Linked DNA regions of Homo sapiens: region 2 is linked to region 1. The links come from fine-mapping of genetic effects on gene expression. Tissue or cell type: whole blood. Region 1 holds a variant in brackets; the other region holds the start of a gene. All regions are shown on one strand. Distances are from middle to middle.

Evidence for each region. PIP is the estimated chance that this variant, and not a neighbour inherited with it, causes the effect.
Region 2: it holds the start of CC2D2A, and the variant in region 1 is fine-mapped to the expression of CC2D2A in whole blood (TOPMed, PIP above 0.99).

Annotation. Positions count from the first base shown.
Region 1 is chr4:15,510,336-15,518,522 of GRCh38, reverse strand. It overlaps CC2D2A (coiled-coil and C2 domain containing 2A), which reads right to left. Exons shown (of 37, transcript NM_001378615.1): 8 at 7,100-7,276; 9 at 3,654-3,816; 10 at 2,519-2,655; 11 at 1,767-1,898. It overlaps LOC124900672 (a long non-coding RNA gene), which reads left to right and starts at 3,816. Exons shown (of 2, transcript XR_007058062.1): 1 at 3,816-4,067. The variant T/C (reference allele first, on the strand shown) is at 3,772.
Region 2 is chr4:15,465,608-15,473,794 of GRCh38, reverse strand. CC2D2A (coiled-coil and C2 domain containing 2A) reads right to left here and starts at 3,913. Exons shown (of 37, transcript NM_001378615.1): 1 at 3,738-3,913.

The sequences.
Region 1 (8,187 bases):
AGCTATAAGAAGAGGGCCACTGTCCTCCAGACCCCAGAATAGTAGATCCACTGACAGCTTGCACTGTGTACCTGGAAAAGCTGCAGACACTCAACACCAGCTCATGAAAGCAGCCAGGAGGGAGGCTGTACCCTGCAAAGCCACAGAGGCGAAGCTGCCCAAGACCATGGGAACCTAACTCTTGCATCAGCATGACCGGAATGCGAGACATGTTTACCCAATACCTATACCTCCATTGTATCTAGGAAGTAACTAACTTGCTTTTGATTTTACAGACTCATAGGCAGAAGGGACTTGCTTTGTCTCAGATGGGATGTTAGACTATGGACTTTTGAGTTGATGCTGAAATGAGTTAAAACTTTGGGGGAGTTGTTGGGAAGGCAATGATTGGTTTTGAAATGTGAGGACAGATTTGGGAGGGGCCAGGGGTGAAATGATATGGTTTGGCTGTGTTCCTACCCAAATCTCATCTTGAATTGTAACTCCCACAATTCCCAGGTTTCATGGGAGGAACCGGGTGGGAGGTGATTGAATTATGGGGGTGGGTCTTTCCTGCACTGTTCTCATGATAGTGAATGAGTTTCACAAGATCTGATGGTTTTATAAACGGGAGTTTCCCTGCACAAGCTCTCTTTTTGCCTGCTGCCATCCATGTAAGACGTGACTTGCTCCTCCTTGCCTTTTGCCATGATTGTGAGGTCTTCCCAGCCATGTAGAACTGTAAGTCCATTAAACCTCTTTTTTTTGTAAATTGCCCAGTCTTGGGTATGCCTTTATCAGCAGCGTGATAACAGATTAATACACCCAGGAAAGCAAGAGCAATGCAATTAAATATGAGGGCAGGGAACTGTAATGATAGCCAGCAGTTACTAGGTCTGTTTTAGACACTTATGTGGATTACCTCATTCAATTTACACAGCAAGCCTGGGAGGCAGACACTGCTATCGTGCCTGCCTTACAGATGAAGACATTGAGGCATGAGAGACTAATGGCCAAGTTCACCCAGTGAATGGTAGAGCAAGGGCTGGAATTAGGCAGCTTGTTACCAGACTTAGGAAAATACAATATAAAGGATTTGCAAGGATAGAAACTCTCCGGTTATATAATAAAGAGACAACAAATGGGAAGTGGTCCTGCAGCAAATGTGAGATAACAAGAGAAAAGAGAGGGCAAAAGAAGAAAAATAAGTGTAGCTAACCTGGATGTGTAAAAAAAGATGCAGACTCAGTCATTCCTAGCTAGGAAACTCACTCCTTGTTTAAGAAGGGATGCATTGGGCTGGGCGCGGTGGCTCACACCTGTAATCCCAGCACTTTGGGAGGCTGAGGTGGGCGGATCACGAGGTCAGGAGATCGAGACCATCCTGGCTAACACGGTGAAACCCCATCTCTACTAAAAATACAAAAAATTAGCCGGGCGAGGTGGCGGGCACCTGTAGTCCCAGCTACTCAAAAGGCTGAGGCAGGAGAATGGCGTGAACCCGGGAGGCGGAGCCTGCAGTGAGCCGAGATCGCGCCACTGCACTCCAACCTGGGCGACAGCGAGACTCCGTCTCAAAAAAAAAAAAAAAAAAAAAAAGAAGGGATGCATTGAGTATAATTAGACTTACTCTTACATAATATGCCTGATGTTTGTTCTTTATGTGTAAGATAGTGAATTATTTAAAAAATTAAAGTAGAATGTTATAAATATAGCACCCCAAGCTATTCAGAAAGCAAAGCACTTTCAATTTCATTTAATAAAAGTGGAGAGAGGGGAGTGTCTACCTTTTTATACAGTGTTTCAAGCTCTGCCTTAATGCTCTGCTCCTGTGTTAGTACTGGCGGCCTTGAAGGAAATGGCTTGATGGGGTTTGGCAGAGCTAGGATCCTGCCGTCATCTCCAAACCATCTTCTTTCCTGTAGATGAAGCAGAGGGAATGGCAACATTTTCTTCTAATCGAACAGAAAATGGTTCACAACACAAACAACATTTCTTGAAAATTCTGTGTCAACATATATATTTCATGTACTTCCTCCCCCAACAGAACTGTAAAAGTTCTGTTTCCATTAGAAATCAAGTCTTCACTAACACTTCTCACAATTGATTTAAAATATACACCCTGGCTTCCTAAAAAGTATTTTAAAGAGCTTAAATGAGTGCTTAAGAAAAATTTATCTTCTATTAATTAAACATTTAAGAAAAAAAAACACAGAATAAAAACTCAAAAGTGAAACTATTCTACCTATGGATAATTTAAAAATTCTGTCAAGTAGGAAAATGTTGCCAGGATCTGGTTTAGCAGGAAAAGCCCAGATCTAGCTAGCAAAGATGGGTTTTGAGCAGTTGAGAAGTTATGTTATTTGAGGATCAATAAATGTACTGAGAGAGAAAGTTAAAAAAAAAAAAATGAACCACTTTCTGTGGATAACCTCAAGAGGAAATGAGTACAGTGGATGCAATGACTGCCCTGTTAGGAAAATAAAAGCTATGTCTAGTGTGCCCAGGCTACACCTGAGAGCAGAGGGTGCACACTTACGGGGTCCTGCATCAGCAATCTGTTCTCCATGATGTTCTGATTGGTGCGTGCCACCTCTGGTCTTACCCCGGTGTAAAGGCCTTCATCTTCCAGGAACCTGGGCTGTACATTCTCAGGAAGCTTTTTATATGTAGGGACTAGATCGTTTATAAATAAATAAAATAAACATTAGGGCCAATCTAAATATCTCAAACTGCAGTTTGGTGAATTAATCACCAGAGATTTCATTTATGTTCTTAGAAAATGCAAATTTTCCAAATTAATTTTTAAAAGCAGAACCAAGGAAAAGATGAATGTGCTCACTTGTAGCAGTATGTTGTAGAATCAGGTATTTAAAGAAAACGCCTAAAAATTTAATATGTAACTCATCAGTGTGGCATACTGAGAAGAAGGTAGTATTCAAATCATAGGATGAGAGACAAGTTTTAGTTCTATTACTCTTCAGCTGGGTGAATTAGGGCCAGGCACTTCTTTGAACTCTCTCCTCCTGTACAAAAGAGATACTAATCTACTTAACTGGGCTTCTGGGAGAATTAAATGAGGTAAAGTATGAGGACGTGCTTTGTAAATGAACAAGTTTATTTGATTGAACGTGATCATTACCTCATTTATTCATTCACGGCTTTATTCATTCCTAGAACACATCTTTACTGAGAGCCTCCTTGTGCCAGGCACAGATGAGACTCTGGGAATCCAGGCCAGGCCCCTGCTGCCTTGGAGCTTGAATCATAGTGGGAGTGATAGGCAGCAACAGGAAGCAAAGGTCTCTACAAGATCACGCCATAGAGTAGTAAGAAAATACACAGGAGATGGTGACTTAGGGAAGGTTGGGGATAAACTTAAGAAGAAAGAAAGGCTGTTCTCATAAACTCTAAGCCCCTGTAATGGATCACTGATTTGATAAAGGGTTCCCACAGTACTCTGGTATATCTTCCATTAGTCTATCAATAAGTGTTTGTTGAATGGATATTTTTCCATGTTGTGTTTTTTTTGTTTGTTTGAAGATATTTCTTGATTGTTAGATTAGAAACTGGAATCAGTTCTGGAGATGAGGCATCCTTATACACTAGCCATATTTCATGACAAGGTAAGTGACGATGTCTAAGCTGAACAAGAAAATAAAAAGAGCAAGTACCTGTCTGCCTACTGGGTATGAAGAGCATTTCTCTTTCCATCTGCAGCCGATCATGGATGCTTTCATAATCTGCAGGTCTGACTGCTACAAAATCGTCAGCCACGTGATCTAAGCCCAA[T/C]AGGAAGTCCTCGGCATCATCACCATTAAGCAGTTCTTCCTCATCCTGCATAATGTTAAAAAGTAACAAGAAAAAATCATGCTAAGATTCTTAGTTAGAAAAATAATTCACAATACCAAACTCATGAAACTTAACATTTCCTACAACTTTATCTTTTCCTTTTTTTAAAAAAGTGAAAGCATAGAACTATATAACCTTTCATATTTAACAAGTGGGTTTTTAAAAAAATTGTTTTGCAGTATTCTGCACACCTGGAAGATGTCAAAATCAGAGATGGCTGTTTCAGAAGAGAAGTGGTAAGCAAAACAATCAAAATCCCAACAAATCTGGCCTCCTATGAGACTGCTTGCTTCTTGCCATTTATGTAAAGAATTGGGCTCATAATTTATGTAGCAGTTTAACCTTCCACCTGGCACTAAACCAAGGGAAAAGGCACCAAGTGTATAGGTGCACAGTCCACACACCCTGTTCAGACTGCCTGGGTTTAAATCCCAGCTTCACCATATACTGCCTGAGGAACTTGAAACAGCTTATTTAACCTTCTGATCCTCAGTTTCCTCACTTATAAGATAGTTATAGTAATGGAGTTTACCTCTAAGCACTTTGTGGGGATAAAATTAAATGATACACTTAAAAATTCAAAGCAAAGAGGCTATAATCACAAATGTTAGCTGACATATATTGATTTTGTTTGGATATTTTCTAAACGTCTTCTCTTCCTTCCTCTTCTTTTTCTTTCTCCTTCTCCTTCTTTTAAAAATTTAAACCTGGTGTCCATTTATGAGCAACATCTTTTAAAATCCTGTGGAGACTTTCAGGTAGCTAAAGACAATGATGGCAGTCTAGCTACCTGCCTCTTAAGATTTCCTCCCCAAGTACACAAAAGAATAAGAAGGAAAAAGGGAATCTATGTAGAAACCATGCTTTTAACTTAACTTGAAGACAGAGAATGCCAAAACATCAAACAAGTGAAAAGAGAAAGATCACCAGATGGCAGTGTGTAATCTTCCTTCTCCTGCCCCACCTCTGCTTCGTGGTGAGCAAAATCACCCAGAGAAAAACTGCAGAGAAGACAGAAAAGGGGAGCTAGCGAAAGGGGCTACAGAGGATCTAAAACTTTGTTCAAAAAGGCTAAATGAACCTTGAAGACGAAAATACTTTAAAAGTGTCTGGGCAGAGCAGAGCATGGACTATAGGGAAGGGCTTCCAAATGTGTGTGATTTAAAAGAGCAGTTTTAGGAACAGAGCTTCTGGGGCAGTGAATAGGCAAAAGGAAGGGAGAAGTGGCCTTTGGAGGAAAGTGCCATAATTTCAGAAGATATTCGCAATTGGAGACTTCTATCTTCAACAGGTGAAGCCCAATTCTCCTCCATTTGAGAGTGCACTACGTCTCGTGACTTGCTTCTCCTGAGTAGAATATGGCAGAAGTGACAGTATGTGGCTCCTGAGACTAGGTCATAAAAGGAACTGTGGCTTCTTTTTTGGGTTCTCCCCTAGATCACTTGCTTTTGGGAAGTTAGCTGTCATGTCAGGAGGACACTCAAGCAATGTTGAATGGCCTGAATGCTGATTTGTAGAATGATTGTTATAGAATAAGCTAAAATATTCCCAAGCTTCTGTAGATCTAGGTAAAAAAAGTACATTTCCGGGAGGCATTTTTCAAGGGAGGAGATTGTAAGTGAAGCACAGAAGTATGCCAATTATGTGAATACTAGAATATCCTAGTGTGTTTTCCTTATTTTTAATGTGGTAAAATATATATAACATGAAGTCCACCATTTTAACCTTTTTTTTTTTTTTGAGACAGAGTCTTGCTTTGTCATCTAGGCTGGAGTGCAATAGCGCAATCTCGGCTCACTGCAACGTCTGCCTCTCGTGTTCAAGTAATACTCCTGCCTCAGCCTCCTGAGTAGCTGGATTACAGGTGCCTGCCACCACACCCAGCTAATTTTTGTAATTTTAGTAGAGACAGGGTTTCACCACGTTGGCCAAGCCTGGTCGTGAACTCCTGACCTTAGGTGATCCGCCCTCCTCGGCCTCCCAAAGCTGGGATTACAGGCCACCGCACCCGGCCCATTTTAACCATTTTTAGGTGAACAGTTCAGTGGCATTAAGTAAATTCATATTGTGATTCTACCCTTACCACCATCCATCCATCTTCCCAGACTGAAATTCTATACCCATTAAACATTCCCTCCTTCCTCTAACCTCTGACAACCACCATTCTACTTTCTGTCTCTATGATTTTGATGATACAATGTAGCTCATATAAGTGAAATCACACAATATTTATTCTTTTGTGACTGGCTTATTTTTCTTAGTGTAATGTCTTCAAGGTATATCTATGTTGTGGCATGTGTCAGAATTTCCATGCTTTCTGCGGTTGTATAATATTCCATTGTATATTTATGTTTATCCATTTATCTTCCGATGAACACTTGGGTTGCTTCTACCTTTTGGCTTTTGTGAATAATGCTGCTATGAACATCGGTGCACAAGTATATGTTCAAATTCTTGTCTTCAGTGTTTTTGGATATATACACAGAGTGGAATTGAATTGCTGGATCATATTGTAAATCTGTGGTTAACTTTTGAAGGACCACCATACTGTTTTTCACAGCAGCTGCACTGTTTTACATGGCTACAAGCAACGCACCAAAGTCCAATTTCTCCATATCCTCTATAACACTTATTTTTTGATAAGCGCCATTCTAATGGATGTGCAGGGGTATCTCATTGTGGGTTTGATTTGCATTTCCCTTATGATGATTGGTGTTAAGAATCTTTTTATGGGCTTATTGTCTATTTGTATGTCTTCTTTGAAGAAATGTCTATTCAATACCTTTGCCCATTTTTAAATGGCTTATTCTCCTTTTATCTCACACATACCACCCACAGTTGCAGAATTTGAGTTGTAGCCTGGGTGTGGTGTTTGGGCACAAAATGCTGCTTACTTTGTAAGGTTGTGGTAAGAGAGAGACCAAGATTTCATTTGCCTTGCAGAGGAACATATTTTGCACATGGAATAAATACTAATCATTACGTGGAGTCTAGCAAGAAAAACCCTCAAGCCACATTATTTAATTCTTTTTTCCACAAAAGAAAAATAAACAGGTTTAATCAAGGTTCTTCCTACCACATTGTAGGGTCTAACCCAGAGCTACAGGGAGCCATGTGAATTCAGTACTTGGGATTTCAACTCAGACGTGGAGTGTCATTCTCCTGGTGGTGGCAGGTTTCTCCTCAGCCACTTTCTTTCTTGCAGGGACATCAGCTTTTTCCTCCTAGCCCTCCACCCACACCTCATTACCATCCTGATATTAAATACCATTTCCTTTCCTCCTCCTTGTGCAGGTGGTTCTTCTTCTTCCCCTTCCTCCTCCTCTTGATTAGTTCCCGCTCTATGTCTTGCTTTTGGTTTTTCCTCTGATCCTTCTGGTTCGGGATCAAAGTTGAAAGTAAAGAAGTTATAGGCCTCTTCTGCAGAAGGGAAGCCAGGTGGAACCTAACGAAAAGCAAGGAGCAATCGCAATTTCCCATTTATAAGCTGTAATGCGCTCTGCACAATTAACTGACAGCTGGCTTAATGCTAATGAGATCAGGCATATTCCAGGCCTCCGAAGCATATTGTCTTAGTTAAAGGTGTGAGACTACTGGTAATAAACTTTAATATCTGCCACAGGCAGTTGGAGGCCTCCTTTAATAGTAACTCTAATTAGTGACTTTAAAAAACCCCAGCAATTATTTACATTCCAACAAGTAAATACATATTTATAGCAGTAAACACTTTAGATAAGATTATTAAAATGACAAACAGTGGATTTATTGTTTTATTGGCCAATGCTGAGATAGTTTTGTTGTATTATGAGAAATATAGAATTTTTAAACAAATGACCTTTTTTTGTTGTTTCTCTTTTGGAGTTAGTACTCTCCTTTTTTCCTATAATGAAAGCCGGGGCAACTTCAGAGCTGAACAAACTGTCTTATCACCAACATTTCCTGTCTTTCCATGCACTCCCTCATCCTCAAGTCAGGCAATATTCTGATCTCTCCAGTTAGTATGAAAGTTGGAATCACTTCTCATACTTTTTTCTTGCAAACTGCATGGCAACAGGAGTCAGGTTATATATGTAGTCATTTATTTATTTTTAATTAAGAGATGAGGTCTCACTCTGTCACCCAGGCTGGAATGCAGTGGCACAATCATGGCTCACTGCAGCTTCGACCTCATGGGCTCAAGTGATCCTCCCATCTCAGCCTCCCAGGTAGCTTGGACCACAGGTGTGTGCCACCATGTCTGGCTAATTTTTGTATTTTTTGTAGAGATGGGGTTTCGCCATGTTGTCCAGGCTGGTCTTGAACTCCTGTGCTCAATATATCTGCCTGTCTTGGCCTCCCAAAGCGCTGGGATTGCAG
Region 2 (8,187 bases), 45 kb after region 1:
TTTTGGCTTCAGATTATTTTCAGGATCTAATCACTTCTAAACATTTCCACTGTTATCACCATGGTCAAACACCATCTTCTCTCTTGAAATCTACTGCAAGAAACTCCTAATTTCTCAGCTTGCCACATTGCTGGGCTACCATATTCTCTGCATTGAAGCCAGTGCAAATTGATGAAAATTTGAGTGACATAATCACATTGCTTCACTCAAAATCCTCCAATGATTTCCCTTTGTCAACAGAGTAAAACCCAAAGTTTTTTCCAAGGCCTACAAGCCCTGTGTGATTTGCACTTGAATCCTGTTGCCTCAGGACCTTTGTAGCTGCGGTTCCTGCTACCTAGTTCTCCTTTTTCCCAAGATATCTGCATGGCTCTTGCTGTTTCACTTTCTTCAGGTCTCAGCTGAAATTTTATTATCAGAGAGCTCTTCTCTGACCATTCGTAATACAATGATCTCCTCCCAACACCCTCCTGGAATTCCCTAACTACCTTACAATGATTTTTTCACAGTACTTATTACCACTCAACATACATACTTACTTGTTAATGTCAGCCCATATCCATTAGAATATAGCTGCAAGAGGGCAGAAACATTATTTTGTTTATTGTTTACCCCCAGAGACTAGGATTATGGGACATCATGGACATTCAATATATACTTGTCGAATGAATGATTAAGTCACTGACTTATTGGCTGTGGTTCCATAGCCACATTCTGGGACTATTTAAAGCTCCACTGTTTCTTCTAGGCTGCTGTGAGGATTAAATGAGAAAACACATGGAGAAACAACAGGCATATGGCTGACAAATCATAAGCCCTTTCTAATATCCTTGGAACCCAAATCTTAACTGGGACTTGGTCAGGTCATTTAAGCAGCTCATCTGAGATCAAGGTTTCACTGACCCTACAGGGGAATTAGCATGTTAAAGGGAAATAAAGCATCTGAAATTCTATTGTCTTCTCTACAAACCTCATCACAGGGTACAAAAAATAGAGGAAGGAAAATGTAAAAGCAGCTAAGAAAATAGAGAGGCAAGGAGATAACCTAGAGTGAATGAGGGGGCAGATAATAAAGATGAAATGCAAAAGTACATGAGAGCTCTCTAATGAACAACTCTGGTCATTGCAAACTGAAAAAAAAAAAAAACCTGTGAAACATTTTAGTAACTAAAAAAAGTTCTCTATAAGTTAATAAATGCTTTATATGGAAGAAAAAAATAGAAGTAGAAAATGAAAAATGTAATGGGATTTTCTTTTTTCCTCATTCTTTCCTGATCATTTCCTTTAAATGAGTTTCTAAGGAAATCAAATGACACCGAAATTTATTTTTTATATGAACACTGTTGCTAAGAAAAGATAAATCAATACTGCCTGGTTTTAATATGCAGTTTGCCATCATCTTATGCACTGGTACTTGTTAATATATTCCTACTGGCAACATCAAAATAGCTATGATTTACTGCACACTTATTTTGTGCTAACTATAGACATGTTCTCTTTAGTCCTCACAATAACATGTCTGGCTTAGTAGTATGTGCCCCAATTTGCGTATGAGTAAACTGAGGCTCTGACAATTTACATGATTTTTCCAAAGTTATAATTATTAAATGTCACATTCAGAACTTGATCCCAAGACTCTGTGATTCCTGAGTCCTCCCTCACTCCACTCTACCCCTCCATCTCACCATTTATTCTTGCTTTTGCAATGGCATCAATAATTATTCTGTGCTTTCCAGAATAGTGGGCTATTCTGGAAATATTTACAGTTGAAAGCTGTGAAGCATTGCACTGGTGAGAAAAGGCTTAGGCTACATTAAGCCAATGATTTATTTTACTCAGTGCAGAAAACCAGATATATTTTTTCAAGGAAAGTACTGACACCTTCATCTGAATAAATGGACTATTCCTAAGAGTCATCAGTGGGTCAGAGCCATACCTGGAGGTTGAGATACAACGCATCTCAACTCCATATTGGTTGCTTAAAAAATCATACAATATATATGCCCTACTCCAGGATGGCAAAAACATGGGTTTATAGGAAGAGTGGTCCACATATTTCTTTGCCAAGGAATATGTGGACCTGAGTTCCAACTTCAGCTTTATTTATTAGCTGTGTGATCTTGGAACAATGCCCTCCCTTCTCTGAGACACGTTTTTTTTTTTTTTGTCTGCAACATTGCAATCATACTTCCTACCTTGAAGGATGATTAATTTATAAGGGCTAAATGATGAAATGTGTGTAGTAAAATGCCTAGCACAGGCTGGGCTCTCAATATTGGTAGGTTTTGTTACTAAGAAAAAGTGATTGTGGGGAGGGAAAGTGGAAAAAAGGAATGAGGAGGGAAAAGAGCTTGGGGGATAGAAGAGGAGTCATGAGAAAGACCTTAGGTGATGTTCAAGCCCACCCACCTTCAGCTCCAATCTTCAACCCCCAGCTACCATAACTCATGTTTCATGTCTCCCTCCCTTCAGCCAGGCCCAGGGCAGTTGCCTTGCTGTTTCCATTTATGGTGCTTCTGAAACCTCCTGCACTTCTACCCATGAGTATTTTCTTCCTCACACCCTGAGAACATTTTTCTGTTCCCTCCTGGAGCTTGGACACCTGGGGAGGTGCCACATACATTGTTTTGGAATACATTATCTTATTCTACAAGTTATTCCAGCTGCAGTTTCCCTTAGCATAAGGTTAGTGACCAATAGCTTTATAGAATCATTTAATCAGCTCGATATAATGTACACTGGCCTTGAAGAGTACACATGAGTACCATATTTGAGCTGTGTTACGTGATATATGACCAGTGCATTTACATGATGTGCTAAGTACTGGAAGCCCCTCCCTGGATGTCATCCCACTGTCCTCTCAGTGTTTTTATAAATCTCTTATGGCACTTAGCTCATTGTACTCTTATCATGTGTTTATAGGTCTGTTTTCCCAGCAAATTCTGAGCTTCTGACCTAGTCTAATTTATGTTTGCACACTCTAAACTTAAATTCATTGCCTGGTGCATTGTTGATGCTCCATAAATGTTTGAATGAATGACTCTATAAGTGAGCTCTAGGATATATATATATATATATATATATATATATATATATATATATATAGAGAGAGAGAGAGAGAGAGAGAGAGAGAGAGAGAGAGAGATTTCATGCTGGTGCTGAATTTATTTGCAGAAAAGGTTATATGAAAATGCAGTAGCAAACATATTTCTTATTTGACTTTATTAGCTTTTCATACCACCTCTTTGCAATGAAGGGAAACAAACAATCAGCTTAAGTTGTAGCCAGTACATTTTCTTGAAGTCTTTGGAAAGCACAGCAACTCTTAGCACTGTGGTTAGTAGCCCTTTCTCTGTCTCATACCAAGAAAAGTGTATTTTGCAGTAATTAGTGCTTCTCCCCTTAAGCCAGTTTGAACTAAAAGGCCCATAAATGCAACACGCAGCTAATGTTTCACAGAGCTTTGGTCAGAGAGCATTTTCACTCAGGACTTGTGATGAACTGGACTTACATTTCCTGCAAACCAGATACCAGATAGCAGCTCAAATCAAAGCTGCCAAGTAATGGTCTATGTTCCCATTTCAGAAAGTAAAAACATAAATAACGATGAGAGCCCCTAAATTTACAATTCATTAAATCCAGTCTCACGGTATCCTGGAGAGGCTGAACTTCAAGCCGGGTAACTGAAAACAGGAAATCACTGTTGCAGCCTAAAGTCCGGTTAGGGACTGATTTACCTTAAGAAACTTTACAAAAGGCACTTTGCAGATTCTGCATTCTAGGATGGAAGTGGAGAGAGACGGTGCTGTTGAATCTTTTAAAAGGGTCCGGAGGGAAAGGCTGAGTGTTGGAGATGCCCCTGGGCTCCTCCCTGGGAAGCTGCAGCCATGTCTTGGAGCAAAAACACCAGCTTAGCAACCCGTTCCTAAGGAAGGTCACTCGGTAGCTTTTTTTTTTTTCCTTTAAAGTGACAGGCTACTTCCAGTAGTGGAGTACAAGCATGCTGGGTAAGCAGAGACGCACAGCCTGCAGTAGAAGGACGGAGAGAAATCAACATGAGCAGCACTGGAAATTAGGTCAAGCCTTAAGAGCTGCCCCTCCCTCATGTCATCCGGTCGTCTTGCATTTCCAATGAAGAACAGGCTCAGAGGTGGGGGGATTTAGAATCTTAAAAGGTCGTCATTACATGGTGAAGCTGTCTAACGTGGCAGCAGCAAAAGCTCTGTGGAGGTGCTGCAGAGTACCAACAAATGTTGCACTTGAGTGTTTTCCAGTTAAAAGTGGAAGGTTGAACGCACAAGTTTAATCTTTGCCTATTCTCTGAATCCCACTGCAATTCCTGAAAACGGATATAAATGTTATGGCTCAAAAAAGTTGGAAAAAAAAAAAGAGGGAGAGGTAGGAGGCAAAGTAGCTGGAAGAGTAATAGAATGAATGGAGCCAAGGAAACACACTCCAATAGACTAGTGTGTATGTGCACATGTGTTTGTGTGTATTTGTGTCTGTGTGTATGGTGTGTGTATGTTTGTGTGTATGTGTATTGACTGTATCTTCTTATTTTCTGTATTCTTGATGCTCTGGCATTTGGAGCCTTGATCCTGGAGAAACTGATTCTCCTATGTTAGCTAATTTCTAGAGATAGCAAATGATTCCCCTGAAATATGCAAAGTCTCCTTTGATATACAAGCCAACCAATCCAGAGCCCACACAACCATCTCCATTATCAAACTCTCACACACTAAGCCAATATTCCTCCTGTCCTAAGTCACCCCAGGTCCAGATACCAGACCACTATAGCCCAGAGAACACCACGATTATTCAAGCTATCCACTCCTAAATTTATGCAGCACCCTACCCTGCTTCACCTATTCCTTCCTGGGAAAACCCTAGTAAAGGCTCTGTGCTGTACTCTGCTGTCTCCGTTCTGCCTTCTGACCAACATTGGTTCTTCCCTATGTGGTCCTGTGTGGCATGCCATGTTCTATGATTTGAATGTGTCTTCCCAAAAGCATGTATTGGAAACTTAATCCCTAACACAATGGTGTCGGGAGGTGGCACCTAATGAGAGGCAATTAGGCTGTAGGGCTCTGCCCTCATAAATGCATTAATGCCATTATTGCAGGAGTGGATTCCTTATAAAAGAATGAATTTGGCCTCGTTTTCTCTCTTTCTCTTTCTTGCTCTCATGTTTTCTTGCCTTGCACCATAGGATGGTGCAGCAAGAAGACCCTTGCAGGATGCCAGCCCCTTGATCTTGGACTTCCCAGCCACCAGAACTGTGAAAAATAAATTTCTGTTCATTATAAATTGCCCAGTCTGTGTATTCTGTTACAACAACAGAAAACGAACCAAGACACCATGCTTCTTGTTTCTAGGGATCTGTTAAGTATAAACTTCTTCTTTTGTGCCAATCATGTTTGTGTCTGTGTGTCTTACCATACCTAATTAAAACAAATCCAGAGTACATTTTTTGACACAGCCTGCATGCATGTGTATGTGTCAATGTATTTGTGTTTGTGTCTCTGTACGTGTATGTATGTGTGTGTGTGTCTGTGTATGATGGGGTGTGCACGTAGGCATGAATATGAGGAAATGAGCTGATTTACTGTGCCAGGATTTGGGGCAGCAGTGTTATAGCTGAATTGTGTTCTCTCTCATCCCCAAAGATGCTGAAGTCCTAACCTCAGTATCTCAGAATGGGACCTTATTTGGAGATAGGGTATTTACAGAGGTAATCACATTAAAATGAAGTCATTAGAGTGAGATCTAATCCAAGATGATTGCGTCCTTACAAAAGGGGAAATTTGGATTCAGAGACAGACAAAATAGAAGAAAGGCAACGTGAAGACATGGGGAGAGCACCATCTCCAAGCCAGGGAACACTCAAGGCTATCAGCAGCCAGGAGAGAGGCCTGGAACAGACTGTCTCTTGAAGCTTCACAAAGAATCAACCCTGCCACACCTTGATTTCAAATTTCTAGTCTCCTGAATTGTTAGAAAATTTCTGCTGTTTAAGCCACTCAGTGTGTGGTACTTTGTTACAACAGCATCAGGAAACTAATACAACCATAGACTAAGGAAGGTGGGGAGAGATACGGGGCTAAAAATGCAGGAAGATTTGAAAGTCTGTATATTAAGGGATTGATCCTCAGGATCCTTTTTCTTGGCAGCCTGAAAAATGCCCATTCCTCAGGCATAATTTCCGTCCTCCACATCTGCCTCATCTGCTGCTGCCCAAAGGAGACTGGCGGTTTCTTTTCTAGGGAAGTTAAACCAGAGACTCTCTGGTCTCAAGTTCCCAGGTACTGCAGCAAGTGAGTGTGTCTCAGGATTGAAAACTGTATATGAAATGAAGATGTTGCAGGGCCCTTTCTGAACCTTTCTCAAGAACTTAGACAATCAAGAACATGCCATTGGCTCCCCCATCCTACCTCTACCTGCACAAAACTGGAGAAAGTAGAAAATTATTTTCTGGAAAAACTGAATGATTATAAAGCACAGACCCTACATACTGACATTTCTGGATCCTCCAATGACAAAGCTAGCATATTGCCCTTACAGAAAAGCATTACAAAAAACATTAAAGGATCTCAGGCTAGGAAATTTAATGCTTGTAGTTATAAAAAGAGAGAACCATGAAAATGGAAAAGTATAATTTACCAAAGGAGTAATACAAGAACAACTGTATGAAATAATGTATTTTCCAATTGAAGGGGACAATCTACTATCTCGTGCTGGTAAAAGAAGACAATAAGAAAACTTGTCTGTCTTGGCTTGTATTCTGCATGTGGTGAGAAAAATATGAAGAATTTACAACCATTGGTTTGCACCATGCAGTTTGTCTTATTTATGCTCCTTATATATTTTAGGAGGCCCCTAAGTGATAACTTTTAAAAAGTGGCCTCTGTCTACTGTATCCCCGTGGGGTGCCAGGCAGAAGTTATTACAAAACTTTTCTGGAGGAACACACCTTCAATTGGACAATTCAGGATGTCCACAAATAAACACAGAGGAAGATGAGCTCACAACCCAAAATTAGACAACAGAAGAGAAACACTCAAGAGTCCACAGACAAACCAGAGGACACTATTAGATACTCAAGAGTTTCTTGCAATACAATAATCAGATGGAGAGTGGAAAAATAACAATGACCAAATATTCAAGAAGATACAAGGAGGATTTGAAAATATGAAAGAAGAGTGAGACACTATCAAAAAGATCAGACAAATTCAAAAAGTAACCAGATAGAACTTTTAGAAATAAATAATACAGTCACAAATTTAGATAAAAGTCAAAGAATGTGCTAAACTGTAGATGAGAGAGCTGAAGAGATGCAAAAGATAGGTTTAAAAAATTGAAATGTGGCACAGAGATATTGAAAATAGGAAAGAGTAGGTAAAAGATACAGGGAGAAATTGATGAGGTCCACCATATCCAGTACAGTACCAGAAGGAGAGGAGAGAGAAAGAAGTTGAATGCTCTGTCTTACAACTGAGGGATCTCGGTCAACTTTCTTAACCTTTCTAGGTTTCAGTTTCCTTCTCTGTAGGAAACTGAGGTTTAATAATAGTAACTATTCCAGAGAGAGTTGTTAGGAAATTTGTTAAGTTAATAATTGTGAAGCACTTAGGACAGTCCTGGCACATAGTAAATGTTGCAAGGTTTATTAAGTGAAGAAAAATATGAATGTTTACCGTAAGAGATTATCTACTTGAAATGGTCAGCTGCCATGAGAGGAAGGACTTGTTCACCACTCTTTTGCTAATTAACCGTCTGATTATTACCTCCCTGATATTTTAAAAGTCTCATGGTCTGCCAACAGAGCTAGCTGGGCACGTCCTCTTTGATCTTTAATACTGAACTAATTCATAAGAATCATACAACTTCTTAAGTTCCAAAAATATTAAAAAGTATCATTGCAAAACACCATTACTTGCAAAAGTTCTTATGTAAGCAAAATAAATGAATCTAGCAAATTTATTTTAAATCATAACACAAAAATCTCATTCTTTTGGTTAAGTGTTCCTAGTTGGCTAAAGAGTTTTTCATCAAGAATAAATGTTGAATCACATTATCACAAGCTTTTTTCTACATCTTTTGAGATAATTAAATATTATTTTTATTCTTTCATCTATTAGTGTAGAGAATTGCATTATCAGGCATTTTAATGTCAAATTGTGCTTGCAT